3 separate regions of the Homo sapiens genome follow, and regions 1 and 2 are each reported to be linked to region 3. Evidence: microRNA targets listed by miRTarBase, many of them from high-throughput screens and not tested one by one. Region 3 holds a microRNA gene; each other region holds the end of a gene's coding sequence.

The links. The annotated mature microRNA hsa-miR-548d-3p reads CAAAAACCACAGUUUCUUUUGC and lies in region 3 at 1,592-1,613, opposite strand. An mRNA with a match to its seed (bases 2 to 7 or 8) in the 3' UTR can be bound and repressed. Matches are read on the target gene's strand: a 7mer-m8 pairs with bases 2 to 8, a 7mer-A1 pairs with bases 2 to 7 and ends in A, and an 8mer does both.
Region 1: the mRNA of UNC93A is a reported target of hsa-miR-548d-3p. Seed matches in the 3' UTR shown: 7mer-A1 at 480-486.
Region 2: miRTarBase lists RHOB as a target of hsa-miR-548d-3p. Seed matches in the 3' UTR shown: 7mer-A1 at 1,540-1,546.

Annotation. Positions count from the first base shown.
Region 1 is chr6:167,315,296-167,318,295 of GRCh38, forward strand. UNC93A (unc-93 homolog A) reads left to right here. Exons shown (of 8, transcript NM_018974.4): 8 at 1-719. The coding sequence ends at 157. Among named protein-coding and RNA genes, the nearest start is that of TTLL2, 8.3 kb to the right of the region's middle. RefSeq lists an enhancer at 1,375-2,170.
Region 2 is chr2:20,447,563-20,450,562 of GRCh38, reverse strand. It overlaps RHOB (ras homolog family member B), which reads right to left. Exons shown (of 1, transcript NM_004040.4): 1 at 1,123-3,000. The coding sequence ends at 2,507. Among named protein-coding and RNA genes, the nearest start is that of RHOB, 2.0 kb to the right of the region's middle. RefSeq lists an enhancer at 1-362.
Region 3 is chr8:123,346,458-123,349,809 of GRCh38, forward strand. MIR548D1 (microRNA 548d-1) reads right to left here and starts at 1,673; the gene lies at 1,577-1,673. It overlaps ATAD2 (ATPase family AAA domain containing 2), which reads right to left. Exons shown (of 28, transcript NM_014109.4): 14 at 2,828-2,987; 15 at 1,726-1,816; 16 at 635-949; 17 at 161-293. MIR548AA1 (microRNA 548aa-1) reads left to right here and starts at 1,577; the gene lies at 1,577-1,673.

The sequences.
Region 1 (3,000 bases), not on the chromosome of region 3:
CGTGCACGTCAAGCTCTACATTCTGCTGGGGGTCCTGAGCCTGACCATGGTGGCGTATGGGCTTGTGGAGTGCGTGGAGTCCAAGAACCCGATCAGACCCCACGCTCCAGGACAGGTCAACCAGGCAGAGGATGAAGAAATACAAACAAAAATGTGAGAGCAGTGAGGTCCGAGGAGGATGAACTCAGAAAGCACCAGCCAGAGAATTTTCTTAGAAGATGCCTCAGGACATAGAGCGGCTCCTCATCACCATCTCAGCACAATTTGGCCATTCTGAAGAGATCATGTTATTTCACTCTTCATGTATTTTTTTTCTATTCTAACAAATTTTTCGTCCACCATCTTAACAGAGATCAAGTGTATACATGAAGGTATCAGTTCATTTAATTTTAGATGCAAAAGAAAAAGGTCTAACGTACAATCAGCCAATTAGAATTTGCCTGAAATCATAGACTCACCCTAGTTTTATTGCTGTAGTTGTTTTTAAGAATTGGAAGCCTGCTTAAAAAATGTAGTTGAGCCCCATAATTTTACAAATGGGCGAACTTTTAAACTTCTAACTCTACTTGGATCAAAACCTCATACATTTTACAAAGGGGTCCTGACAAGTCAGCTGACTCAACCTCACAGAGTCAGGGGGTGACAAAGCCAGACTGGGGCTCAGGATTCCTGAAACGTGTGGGGTCTGCGTTTCTAAATAAAGACGGTTATTTAATGGACTTACCTCCTGCCCAAGTACTGTTGTGCTAAGTACTCACATAGACACACACACACGCTTCATCACATCAGTGCTTTAGTGTGCTGTGGCCTTCGCAGACCTTCGAGAGCATTTCAGGTGAAGATGCTACATGTGTCTGTTAACATGGAAAATGGTGCCGGGCACGGGTTGGGTGATATTTGCCCATCTCACAGTCATCGTCTTGTCCCTTGGCACCTGGTCTCCTCTCTCCCTTGTTCTTCCTAGCAGCACTGCCGCCTGCCCATCTCCAAGGCTTCTTCCTTGTCCACTGCACTCAGGTCCCCAGGCCCTCCCCAGCCCTCCCCCATTACTAGCACCACCTTGCCCAGCCCCTTCCCGCCTCCCGCTCATCCTCTCCCACAACCCACCCTCCCCGGCCCTACCCCTGCCCCCCCCACCCCTCCCCAGACCCCTTCCTGGCCCCTTTCCTACCCTCCTTGGCACCCCCCCACCCTTCCCCCACTCCCGTGCCCTCCCCACCCCCGCCAACCGCCTTCCCTGCCCCCCCCCACCACCCTCGCTTCCTGGACCTGCCCCGCCCACCCTGGACCCCCCCCCCCACCCCCTCACTCCTGGGACCTCCCTGGCCTGTGGGCCTGGAGCTTGGGATCTCTTTTGTCCTTTAACCCTAAGCTGCTTCCTTCCCCTTCCCTTCCTCTTCCTCCCCCTCCCCTTCCCCTTTGGTTCACACTGAGGCTTCTTCTAGACCTTATGTGTCCTGTCTGTGGCTCTCCCGCTGCATGTTGTTCGTTTATTGTTTCTACGAGCATCTCCTCCTCCTGGAAATTCAGCTTTCCAGTGTCTAGTACACAGCACTAGCAGGTGCTTCATATGTGCAGAAGGAAATGGGCCTCTCTGTGAAATTCCAAATACTTCCTTCACTCACCCTCATTCATTAGGATGCTGGCTGCCTCTGGCCATGGGAGGGGGAGCAAATGCCTCCTGGCCCTGGCCCTTTCTCCTTCTAGTCAGTGTCAGCCAGGTGCCCAGACGGGCGATGATCAAAGGCAGAGAAAAGTGCAGCTGCCACGAGCTAATGCTTCCTGGCCTCTCAAATGTTACCTCTCAAGCTTCCCCACGACGAGCTGGGCATTTTCTCCCAACTGTTAGAATTCCCCTGATAGCCCAGTGTCTCTGACCACCAGCAGCCTTCTTCTTGTTACCCAGGCTCATGTGCCCTTTATGTGCCACTCTGTCCCTGGCCTGGCTGATCAGGGAGGAGGCCCTGCCATTCCTCCCCCAGGCTGCCGATCCTCTGCCTCCATTCCATTCCCTGTCGATCCTCTGCCTCCATTCCATTCCCTGTCGGCTGCTTCCTGGTTCATTGTCCTCCCTGCAGGGCTCCTCTTATCCTCCATCCGGGCTATTGAGAGAGGGATTTCACTAAACACAGGACACTTCACCTCCAGCGCCCATCTAAAGAGCACAGTCTTACCCACTGGCCGGGACAGTCCAGGCCTCCGTGAGTTAATCCCAGCTGCCTCTCTAGCCTTCCGTCCGTTTCACCAGACTTCTCTGTCCAATGCTTCTGTTAAATACCGAGGTCCTTCCCTTATGGGCCCTTCGCTCATGCTGTCCCTGTGTCTCTATCCAAACCACGTTTATCCTCCCAGACCCAGTGGAATGCCGTTAACTCTTTGCAGGCTTCAACCATCTTCCTAAAGCTGGGCCTCTGCACTCTCTAATCCCTGCCCTGCTTTGTCCTCCCCTTTCCTGCCTTGCACCACGGGCTGCCTGGTGCCATCCCTGTCTGTGGGATCCATGGCCGTCTTGCCCAGCGCCATGCCTGTTTGTGGGATCCATGATGGTCTTTGCAGCTCCCACAACAGGGTCATGTCAAAAGGAGTCAAGACTGGCTAGGGTATTTGTGTAGAGGGCGTTCATCGAGGGTAAGGTGACATGTCATGTCCCCTCCATTTGGAGGTTTAGGATTTTGTGAATTGATGATGGGCACTCCTGGTGCTCCTCAGGATAAGTCTTATTTGGAACTGGTCTTTGGTTTCTCAGTCTGCTCAGAGCATTTTGAACCCTGTAGACCCTAAGTCAGTAGGAACTCCTTAGACCTTCGGGGGTAGTGAGGCCTTTGCAGAATGTCTTGGAGACAATGAACTAGGCCTGCTCATGAGGTGTGGGGGGCACTAAGGAGTGAGCCCTGGGCCTAAGGCTGGAGGGGAGGACCCAGAGGTGAGAGGAGTTGGGGAGTGCATGTGCATTTGTCCAAACCAGTGTGCATCTGCGTGGCTCCAGCCGGCCGTTCAGAA
Region 2 (3,000 bases), not on the chromosome of region 3:
AGTTACTGCCAGCATTTAAGTGGGTGAAAGGTCACCACCAACCAGGTTTTATTCACTCAACAAAAGCTCTTGGAGTCTGGGGTAAGACCAGGAAACAGAAGCCTCAAGCTTTGAAGCAAACAACTTCAAAGGAGACCTCCACCTTTGTCCTGGGAATGGGGAGGAGGGGGAAGGAGAAGGTGGCAACTAAGTGCTAGAAACCCAGAAAATGCTGATTCAAAAAAAATGAAAACCACACTTCTCAGGCAGTTGACACTCTCAGCTACCTTCCCTGGAAGCTGCGAGAGCTGGCAGGTTTGAACCATCATGCCTGCAGCAGAATTTTAATGTGGTCTCCACCTATAAATCAGCCCGTCTGGTTCTAAGAACCATTACAGCAAAGCTAAGTGTCTACGATTAGAGTTTATCATGACTCTCAAAAAGTGGCAGCTCCAACTTTAAGAACCACCAAAACATCCAATGTTCTTTCCACAATATGGCCCTTCTCTGAACTTAGAATAAATCATTCTAGGTTACTTAATAAAGGACATATTGGGATCAAAGCTTGATAATTTTAAAAAATCACCTCTTTATCTGAACTCCCCCACTTCTGGAAGCTCCAGGCCCAAAGATAACAACCTACAACTTCCTGGGATATTGTGTAAACCCCTTGATGGCCTGAAGGGAACCCAGTAAACAGGCTTCCTGATAGCGTGACCCCACACCAACGATTAATAAAGGTTTTCTAAATTTAAAATGCACAAATGATAACTTTCCAAGACTCAAAGAATAAGCAAAGCCCCATAATAGACTTAAAGACACAAGTGTTTTTAAGACACACAGATGAATGAAATCAAGATCTTCGGTCTCACCCAATTGAACTGAGTACATAATAGGTCAAAAGTTTTTGCACTGGGTGTCGGGGTATCCACTCATCTTCCTCTAGGAATGTGACAGGAACAACCTGGTCTCCCTTGGTCACCCAACCCCCACATGCTCTCAAAGGGACTTCATCCTCATTTACTACATTTGCTATAAGGGAAACGGAGTTGGCAAGAAAGGATCTCGCCTAGGAGAATATCTCCCTTGTTCCAAATTCACAAGGGTATTTTTACACACTATTAAACCACAAGAGCCATTTTATAAATGTCATCATCATAGTCTTTTAATATTTTACATAAAAAACTGTATACACAGCTTATAGAACTTTTATGTAAACATCATAAGCTCACCATTTTGTCATTTGTCAGTTTATTTAAAAAATAAAAAACAAGACAACAATTTAGTAGAAGTACCACTGGGAGGGAGGGGAGGGGAAAAAAGGATATACAGGGGCAGGTGTATTCTCTGTACAGAGGTGCAGAGAAAATTTCACATAGCTTTAGAGAATGCCTTGTGGAAAAAAAAAAAATAGGCCCCAATACTTGTTACTGCCCTTTATCAAAACTGTGTGCATGACCTGCACAAATAAAATCACAAAACAGTGTTGCCACATTCTTCAAGGAAACAAAGCAAAATTTAGTGGGTTTCTTTTCCCTCTCCTTGTTAAAAGTCATTTTTTAAAAACATCAGAAGTAGATGAGGTTACAGCGTACAAGTGTGGTCAGAATGCTACTGTCGTATGCAAATGACGAGTGCATTAAGTGTCAAACAATGAAACAATTGTGCAAAGAATAAAAAAACAAATTTTAGCCTTTAAATAAATCAAATAACATCAGTTTCTTGGACTGAACAATTTTCACTTCTAGGACAGGCACAAAGTTCGCTTATGGCAAAAACAACCCCACAGCGCATCCTCCCTCCTCCCTCCGGTAGCTGGTGGAGGGTTCGCAGCGGGCTGGCCCGCAGGAGAGGCTGTGCTGAAGCTGTGTCCTCCCCAAGTCAGTTGCAAATGTCTTCCCCAGGGGTTGGAAAGATGGTCAAGTCCTGTTCATGCTTGGGCGGGAGTCTGGCCCAGCCTGGGCCAGAGCGCTCACCCATCACCACCCTTAAATAACACCATCTTAGCTCCGAAAATAAAATTATATCTATATTTATATAACATCCCCCCATCCTCCCCAGCAGCCCTCCCCTCCCGCAGTACCCGGGGTCTATGTTACAGACAAGGGATATCAAGCTCCCGCTGGTGAAGGGCGAACATCTGATGGGGCGCGGCCACACTCCCGCGCCAATCTCGCCCCCGGGGATCAGAGGCGGGGGTGGGGTGAAAATGGGGCGAGGGGAGTCGAACAGACACACAGCCACACACTCTGAGGCCCGGCTCTTCAGAAAAGCATGCTCAGGGGACCCTTGGCACTCAGTGGGGAGCCCAGGCCTGTGCAACACAGCTGGACGCACACAGACACTGGGATGGGGGCGCCCGGTGCCCACGCCAAGTCCTGGCGCAAGCCAGAGGCGTCAGCAGACAGATGCCAGGCAGGCCGGTGGGGTCCTTGTGGGACACGGGTCTCCCCTTCTCCGGGCTCGCGGGGGACTGGTCCAGGAGGGGGAGCCGTGCCGGCAGGGGCAGGCGCGACGGGCGCGGCCCTCATAGCACCTTGCAGCAGTTGATGCAGCCGTTCTGGGAGCCGTAGCGCTTCTGCAGCGCGGCGCGCGTGGCCGTCTCGAAGACCTCGCGCACGCCTTCCTTGGTCTTGGCAGAGCACTCGAGGTAGTCGTAGGCTTGGATGCGCACGGCCATGGCGCGGCCGTCATCCGTGCGCACGGGTTCCTGCTTCATGCGGGCCAGCTCTGTGCGGACATGCTCGTCGCTGCGCAGGTCTTTTTTGTTGGCCACCAGGATGATGGGCACATTGGGACAGAAGTGCTTCACCTCGGGGACCCACTTCTCGGGGATGTTCTCCAGCGAGTCCGGGCTGTCCACCGAGAAGCACATGAGAATGACGTCGGTGTCCGGGTAGGAGAGCGGCCGCAGGCGGTCGTAGTCCTCCTGGCCCGCCGTGTCCCACAGCGCCAGCTCCACCTGCTTGCCGTCCACCTCAATGTCGGCCACATAGTTCTCGAAGACGGTGGGCACGTACA
Region 3 (3,352 bases):
AATTTCTACTGTTGTGACAACTGTAACAACAAAAAATTTCTGGTAGTTTAATTTAAATAAAAAGCAGATTGGTTAGCACTTTTTATTTTTTCAACCACATCTCATTTATTTTTAGAAAATTTACACATGCAAAAAACATTGATTTGCAAGAAAAATATACCTATTCAAATGAAGAAAATTAAAATTGTCTTTTGCCTTATGAGAAGATTTCTGAGAAAGTCCATTTTCATAAACTGATGGAACATCATCATCACTGTAAGCCAAGTCACTTTCTAGCAGAGGACAAGAAATATCTATAAAACCAAAAAATTGTACATTAGTAACTTTTGGATTGCAAAGCAAATCTTTATTGCTTCAGTTACCAAGTCAGCATACTTCAATTAAATTTTTTCAAAGAATCAAAAATATTTGTGTAGATATGAATTAATAAGTAAATGTAAAAATGCACCCCAAACTTACAATAAGTTAAATTAAGGGCAATCCATGGAGTAAATTTCCTTCAAATATCCCAGGTAAAGCATTACCAAATTCTTTTCAAGAGATTCTTTTACAAATAAATATTTCTGGTATGTATGAAACATTTCACTTTACTGATTATAAAAACTAACTTTAAATGGTCAATCAAGTTTTATACCTGAGTCTAATGTTTTATTTGTTCTGAATTCTGCATGTGGAAATACTCTCTGCAGGGCTTCTAAAATCTTGTCAACAGTGTTTTGCAGGAGTGGTTTCACAACGGTGGACAGTGCCTGCCCAGGTGATGTCACAGCTCTTTGGGAGGCTGGTATCATCTTTTGCATAGCTACCTCGAAATCCTTAGCTGAGATATTAATTGAAGAGAGATCCAACTGCAGTTTCTCACTAGTGGTATAGATCTGTGGGTAGCGTCGTCGTAAAGCACATAAAGCAGCTTCAGCACATATTGATTTAATATCTGCTCCACAGTATCCTATCCAAAGCAACCAGGGGAAGAAAAGAACCAGCCGACCAAACAAAGAAACACAAAACTCTATTAGCATGACCATGGTTAAAAAAAAAATTAAAAATCAGCCTCGGAATATAGTTAGCAAATATTTAAGAGTAATAAGACCAAAATCTCTTTTACCCAGTAAACTTATAGGGTAGTAATGGCCATCAACAATCAATCAACTTTTAAGAGTGCAATACACAAGCACTAAGTATAGCACAGAGGTCAAAAGCAAGAGTTTTAAAATCACACAGACTAGATTCACATTCCAGTTTGTAATTTACTAGCTGTATGACCTTAGAAGATTCACATAATGCTCTCCAGCCATTTCTTCATCTGTAGAGATACTGCTACCTACATCACAGGAATGATGTGAAAATTACATGAAATAATATATGTAAAATGCTTAAAAGGATGACTACAAAATGGTCAGTAAAGAATAGCTATTATCTTATTATGATATAATAATATATTGTATTTTGTACAATTATATTATTATCTACTCTGCCCCTGATGGCCAATTTGTCAAATATCTCTATTTAATACCAAGACTTCATGAGAAGAAAATGCCACAAATAAGAGATAAGAAACAAATATAACCTTGTATTTCTTTATTAGTCTGGTGCAAAAGAAACTGTGGTTTTTGCCATTACTTTTACAGGCAAAAACCACAATTACTTTTGCACCAACCTAATATAACTTGTTTCATATTTGAAATAAATGTAGTATTTATTTTAACTGCTTAAAACAATGTTTACCAACACAGTTTTCTGCTAGCTCTTCTAAAAATGTGTCCAGTGGTTTGGGATTCCAATCCCTGGTGTGAATCTTTAGAATCTCTTTTCGAGCCTATGAATAAAAACAATTTAATTTTTTACAACTATAATAATAAATGCTATTCAGATTACATTAATTTTGATTAAAATACTTTTGATTATCTAAAATTTTAAAGTGATCAGTACTTAATACTGGCCGGGTGCGGTGGCTCACACCTGTAATCCCAGCACTTTGGGAGGCCGAGGCAGGTGGATCACTTGAGGTTGGAAGTTCAAGACCAGCCTGGCCAACATGGTGAAAACCACTCTCTACTAAAAATACAAAGATTAGCTGGGCGTGGTAGCATGTGCCTGTAATCCCAGCTACTTGGGAGTCTGAGGCACGAGAATTGCTTGAATCCCGGGGACGGAAGTTGCAGTGAGCTGAGATTGTGCCACTGCACCCCAGCCTGGGTGACAGAGCAAGACTTTATCATAAACAACCAACCAAAAAAACTCAATATAAGCAAAATATGAAAGTGAAAATAAGAAAAAGGATGTACTTTTAAGAGTTTAATGAACTTAAGTCTCATTATTAAACATATTTGCATTTATAGCACTAAAGTTATATTCGTCATAAACACAAATAAGAGAAAAGTAACTACTAAAGTAGCTATTCATTCTGGTGCATATTAAGAGCTGTTTTTAAGAGTACAGACAGCTCTTGACATATTTTCCTCTTTGGTTCCCAGAAGATTAAGTAGACTTAAAAAAACTCGGTAGGATTATATGATGATATTCATGAAAAAGACAAGGCTAACAAACTGGCTAAGGATTGATTACTCATTAAGCCATATGTTCTGAAGCAACACTTAGAACATCCAAAGGCTACACTCAAATTGAAATAATTTTAAGAGTAATTTTGGGAAGGCATTATTATATTTAAAGAAAAGAATAAAAATTTGTCCCCATTTGAGTTGTTTACTATCATTTGACAAGACCATGATACAAAACTCAAGAATCTCCAAATTTTTACTATACCAAGACTTATTATTAATAAACAGCAATATATTTTGTCAAAATTTGAGTGACATTAAATTCTTACCTCTTTATCAGGCAGGCTAAAGAGGAATTCTCTATCAAAGCGACCAGGCCTTCGTAAAGCAGGATCTATAGAATCTAGCCTGTTCGTAGCACCAATGACCACAATTTCCCCTCTGCTGTCCAATCCATCCATAAGAGCTAGCAGGGTGGAAACAATAGAACTAAATTTTAAAAATAAGAGAGAAGAGATTAATACTATGAACACAGTCTATATCATTCAGTAATATTTCTTCTTTTGTAAGATTTAACGCATTACATGTGAATAAATTTTCTCAGGGCACCTCACTATTTCCAATGGATTAAAAAAATCTATAAAATAACATCCCAAATGGCCCACAGAAATTGAAATCAATGGAAAACAGACGGTTGTTAGACCCCCCACAAATGAATCCTAGAAGACATTTTATAAAGCATAATTTCACAAAGGAACTTAAGAGTTCTCAAACAATATATAACATCAAAAAGAAAAAAAAGGCAAGGCATGGTGGCTCACGCCTGTAACCCCAGAACTTGGGGGCTGAGGTGG